Linked DNA regions of Homo sapiens: region 1 is linked to region 2. A link means that fine-mapping ties the variant in region 2 to the plasma level of a protein whose gene starts in the linked region. Region 2 holds a variant in brackets. A gene starts in the other region. All regions are shown on their reverse strands.

Region 1 (2,500 bases), not on the chromosome of region 2:
AAGGGCGATTTGGAGATCTAGCCGGACCCCTCACCCTCTCGGACACACCCACCTTTTTTTTTTTTTTTTTTTTTTTTGAGATTTCGTCTCACTCTGTAGCCCAGGCTGGAGTGCAGTGGCGCGATCTCAGCTCCCAGCTCACTGCAACCTCCGCCTCCTAGGTCCCGGTTCAAGCAATTCTCCTGCCTCAGCCTCCCGAGTAGCTAGGATTACAGGCGCGCGCCACCATGCCCAGCTAATTTTTGTATTTTTAGTAGAGACGGGGTTTCATCATGTTGGCCAGGCTGGTCTTGAACTCCTGACCTCAAATGATCCGCCTGCCTCTGCCTCCCAAAATGCTGGGACTACAGGCGTGAGCCACCGCGCCCGCCACACCCACCTTTTCTTTACCGTTGTTTCCTCGATTTTTCTCTACTCCCTAGCGCAGCTTAGTGCGCGCCTCCTCTGGACATTTTTCAGGGCTTGGTTGCGCGCACAGTAGGTCCCCAACACTGAATGTTTATGGGGTGACTGTGTGAACGTTCGCTGCAAGGCTATCCAAACTGGGATTGCTCCTTGAGGCCCCCTGGGCGGCCGTCAATTCTCCAAAGCTTCTACTCCCTTTTCCTTCCTTTTCCCCCAAAACGCAGTCCCTGCGCCCACTAGAGGGTGGTGGGCGCATCCAAGAGCGGCATCTAGAGTCCGCAGCAAGGTCAGAGCGGGCTTTGTGTGCGCGGTGAACATTTACGTGCACGCCTGGGCGGCCCTCCGTGTTGCTGCTGGGTGTGTGTTTTCTCTGCTCCCTGGTGCCAGCCGGGTTCGGGCCTGTCCCGGGGGTCCCTGGGCCCCAGCCCCGACATGCTCGGTCCTGGACAGCGCGCACCGCCACGGCGCACATCTGGGCGGTCCCGGGGTTCCTCACCCGCCGCCCCTCCCCCTTCTCCAAACTTTCTCTCAACTTCCCGACCTGCTCCACTCGGTGCCCCTCTCCGCTTCCCTCATGAATTATTCAGTAGCGTGAGCTCCAATCAGCGCGCCCGGGGCTCACTCGCGGAGCCCCCGCGTTGGGAGAGCTGCCCCCGCCCCCCGCGCGCCCCTCCCTCCCGGGCCCGGCGCCGCCCGGCCCAGTTCCAGCGCAGCTCAGCCCCTGCCCGGCCCGGCCCGCCCGGCTCCGCGCCGCAGTCTCCCTCCCTCCCGCTCCGTCCCCGCTCGGGCTCCCACCATCCCCGCCCGCGAGGAGAGCACTCGGCCCGGCGGCGCGAGCAGAGCCACTCCAGGGAGGGGGGGAGACCGCGAGCGGCCGGCTCAGCCCCCGCCACCCGGGGCGGGACCCCGAGGCCCCGGAGGGACCCCAACTCCAGCCACGTCTTGCTGCGCGCCCGCCCGGCGCGGCCACTGCCAGCACGCTCCGGGCCCGCCGCCCGCGCGCGCGGCACAGACGCGGGGCCACACTTGGCGCCGCCGCCCGGTGCCCCGCACGCTCGCATGGGCCCGCGCTGAGGGCCCCGACGAGGAGTCCCGCGCGGAGTATCGGCGTCCACCCGCCCAGGGAGAGTCAGACCTGGGGGGGCGAGGGCCCCCCAAACTCAGTTCGGATCCTACCCGAGTGAGGCGGCGCCATGGAGCTCCGGGTGCTGCTCTGCTGGGCTTCGTTGGCCGCAGCTTTGGAAGGTGAGTTTCCTTGCGGGGGGGGGCGCACCCCGTCACTCCTGGGACCTCCCCCCCAACATCTGGGCCTCGGAGTGGAGGGGCCGGCCTCTGACTACCCCTACCCGGGCACTGCAGTCCCAAACACTTCGGACCGATAGTGCTGGAACGGGAGGGGGGCGGGGAAGAGGCGCCCGACGGGTAGTGGAGTTTTCTTTTGTTTGGGAAAGAGATGGAGTCTGGCTACGACCCGGGACATTCCCCTGCCCGGGCTCCCCGAACTCTCACTGCTGATTACATACGCCCCTGGCTGCCTTTCCTTTCCTCCCTACCCCACTATTCAAAACTATCTGCAAAGTTTCTGTCCCAGTCCCACCTCCCGCCGTACATGAGGGAAGGTTTCTGGAGAAGCAACAGCAGACAAGGCACAACTTTTCGTGCTAGGCCCTAAAACGACCCCCAGCGCCAATTCCTTAGCGATCACACCTTGATCCTCCAGTTCCACACTCCTGCAACAGGATGGCCTCCTTTGCATTCACACAGCAAACCCCCAAACCGCTCTCCCGCCCACTGCTCCTGCCCCTGGTATAGGGTGGCTCCTTGGTTTCTACAGGCTGCACCCCATCCCTTTAAATGCGGTCTAGACCCCGGCCCCAGGTGAGTCCCGGGCTTCCCTTGAGACCTAGGAGCGGGTAGAAACTGACCTACACAGCCCCCAGGTAGAAACTGACCTACACAGCCCCCACATCGCCCTAACTAACCCAGTCTATCTCCCACCTCCTGGTCTCTCCAAGCATTTCTTTGGCCATGGATCGCTGTCCCTCCTGGTCCCCTAAAGGGGGAGCCAAGAGCCCTAGAAACTCTCCTGTGTCCC
Region 2 (3,030 bases):
AATGGATTCAGTGTGATTTTAAATCTGTCTGAAAATGAAATTCAGTTGCAAGGTAAGAACTGTTAATAGAAGCGAACAAATGGAATAAAAAGGTGTTGATGTGGTAAATTTTAAGCCTAGTTTACACAACCATCTTGTTTTAATAGGAAATTAACCTACAGCTGCTATAATTCTCATAGGTGCCTTCCTGGGGCTAGTTTACCTGTGAATCAGGAAACTGCTATGGCCTTATGCAAAACCAGATGAAACTGAAGTTACAGTCAGGGTGACAGAATTGCTGGTAGGTGCTAGGCTATACGTCTTTTGCCTTTTTCAACTCAAAGAGCATACTGTTGAGGAGCGTTTCCTCTCTCACAGAAAATTACATTGATTTCAAGCACAAAGGGAAGCTCGCCCTTATTTTGTAGAAATTTCTTAGAAAGTATCTTTGCAGGATGAGCTGCAGTTATGCAGGATTTCAGCTGTGTATCCACTACCACCTCGGCTGAATTATACTAGAATTTCTTTCCAAAATGATGGTGAGTAGTTGCAATATGATTCGAGCACAGAAAGTGATAAGGTTAAAGACCCATCACTTTTATTATAAGGAAGAAACAAAGAGAGAATAAAATGTTTTCCTATAAGACTGGCTGCCTAAAACAAACTTTTATTAGCTTAAAAAAAAATTAAACAATTTAGCAACTACTTGCTTACACAGGCGTGATTCATATACCTGTGCTTAAAACAGCAGGACACATGTTTTCTATTGACAAAATTACTTGAATTTATGAGAAATTGCTTCCACTATGACTTTCATTTTTTAATAATAAAATTGAGATTCAGTGGTTCAAAGAAAGAGAATGCTTTTTAAAACAGTATTTCTAGTTTTATAATGCCTTACATTTTAAACCTGATTTTACTTCGTTAAGTTACCCTACAAACTTTATGGAAGCTAACAAACCTACTTTGCTGGCATAACAAACAACTCAATGAACCTTACACATTTTTACTTTTAAAAGTGCACTTTTTTTTAGATCTTATAAATAAAATGAATATTGACATTTAAAAGAGCAGCAGGAGAGATGTTTGATTGTGCAGAGGAGCACCAAAATGAATATTTAATGTGGTGTCCACTTAGGATACTCTAAATATAATTACTGGCATTTGTCCAGCTAAAGAAAAAAAGAGTGGGGGAGGAAACAACATACTGCTTATTTTAATTAGGTGAAATGATGTGGTTCAATAAAGCATGACAGCCTGCATAATGAAAGGAGAGGCCCATGTTTATGGGAGAATTATGGGTGACAAAAATGTTGGCAGTGTGCATGGTTTACTGAGGCAGTTGAAAGCCACTGTGTTATCTTTTCATTCATAATTTCTTGCAATGCCTTTTAAAGTGTAAACTGATATCATGCAGGAACAAGAAAACAAGGCAATGTTTATTATTTTTAATGTTTAATGAAGACGAAGGTAATTATATTTGGAGTGTTTCTGAAGATGATCTAAGAAGTGGCCATT[G/A]ACTCTTATGTGTCATCTCACTCTTCTGTCTCTGAACTTCTGTCTTTGATTATCTCATATGTGAATTAGATACACACAGGCATATATATTATATATATATATATATATATATAAAATACATGGGCATGATTCATATACCTGTGTCTCTTAAAATAGCAGGACACATGTTTTCTATTGACAAAATTACTTGAATTTTTGACAGACTGCTTACACTATAACTTTCCTTTTTTAAATAATAAAATTAAGATTTTATTATTTAAAAATCTTTTTAAATAATAAAATTAAGATTTTATTATTTAAAAATCTTTTTAAATAATAAAATTAAGATTTTATTATTTAAAAATCTTTTTAAATAATAAGATTAAGATTTTATTATTTAAAAATCTTTTTAAAATACTGCTTTTTATAACTTTCCTTTTTTAAATAATAAAATTAAGATTTTATTATTTAAAAATCTTTTTAAAATACTGCTTTTTAAAACAGTATTTCTAGTTTTATAATGCCTTATATTTTAAACCTGATTTTACCTCGTGAAAAAATTCATTACTTTTATAATATTATATAGTGTAATATATGTGTGTGTGGGCTTATTTTCTTTATTTTAGAAGAAATTTCTAATGAAGCATTTGAAACAGACAAAACAGAAAAAAAATGAAGAGATATTGTAGAACACAGGACTGATAATGATTCCATCGTTTTTCTTCTTTTTTTGTCTTTATTTGGAGAAATACAGAGTATTTAGATCACAGCACTCTTTAATTTTGATTAAAACCATAATTATAACCAACATTTTATAGACGGCTTCTGTTGCTATTAAAATTTTGAGGGAAGAGAGCTTTTTTTTCGGGTAGTTCATAACTTGTGTTGCTTTAAGAAACTTAGTATATATGTAAACCCAATACAATAAAGACTTGAATTTGATAAATTTTACTATTTAAAAACTATCTGGCAAAAATAATCATGATCAACAGTTTAAAAAGTATTAAGCAAACTGAAGAAAATATACGTATGAGAAATATCAAAAAATTATCAATATGTAAACATTTCAAAACATCAAGAAAAGTATATCAATGGAAATTGAATCATAAGAACATTTGTCACACACGCATGCACACACACACATATACACACACCACAAGACCCAAATAACTATATGAATCCAATGGTCACAGCCAATTATCCAAGAAATACAATTACACAATACACAAAATATGTGTCTATCAAATCTATAAAATTAAAAATATATAATAATTAGTGCCAACAGAATTTCAGAAAAATAAATGGTCATTTTTCCCTAACACTTATTGAAGCATAAATTATATCAACCTGTCAGAAGACAATTTGATAGTGTGTAATAAGTACTATTAACAAGTAATGATGAATCTTATGATTTGTCCTTAGGTTGTTCTTTATATAGTGTTGTTTATGAGAATGAAAAACAAAACCAATCAGAAATAGAAATTAATTAAAAAATTAGAACTTACTAATATGGGCCCTGCACACTGGCTCACCCCTCTAATCCCAGCACTTTGG

Which allele goes with the higher level. Positions count from the first base shown, and alleles are read on the strand shown. Strength reflects both the effect of a copy and how common the allele is.
As copies of G replace A in region 2, the plasma level of the protein whose gene starts at base 1,106 in region 1 goes up (weak association).

The links. PIP is the chance, under the fine-mapping model, that this variant and not a neighbour inherited with it causes the effect. Protein levels are from antibody-based Olink assays in UK Biobank. Linkage for the fine-mapping came from a reference panel and not from the study's own genotypes, which makes the PIPs less certain.
Region 1: it holds the start of EPHB4, and the variant in region 2 is fine-mapped to the plasma level of the EPHB4 protein (UK Biobank, PIP 0.97).

The regions. Positions count from the first base shown.
Region 1 is chr7:100,826,129-100,828,628 of GRCh38, reverse strand. EPHB4 (EPH receptor B4) reads left to right here and starts at 1,106. Exons shown (of 17, transcript NM_004444.5): 1 at 1,106-1,650. The coding sequence starts at 1,599. It also overlaps a transcript of SLC12A9 not described here. RefSeq lists an enhancer at 307-1,102.
Region 2 is chr13:104,631,157-104,634,186 of GRCh38, reverse strand. No RefSeq gene overlaps it. Among named protein-coding and RNA genes, the nearest start is that of DAOA, 830 kb to the left of the region's middle. The variant G/A (reference allele first, on the strand shown) is at 1,498.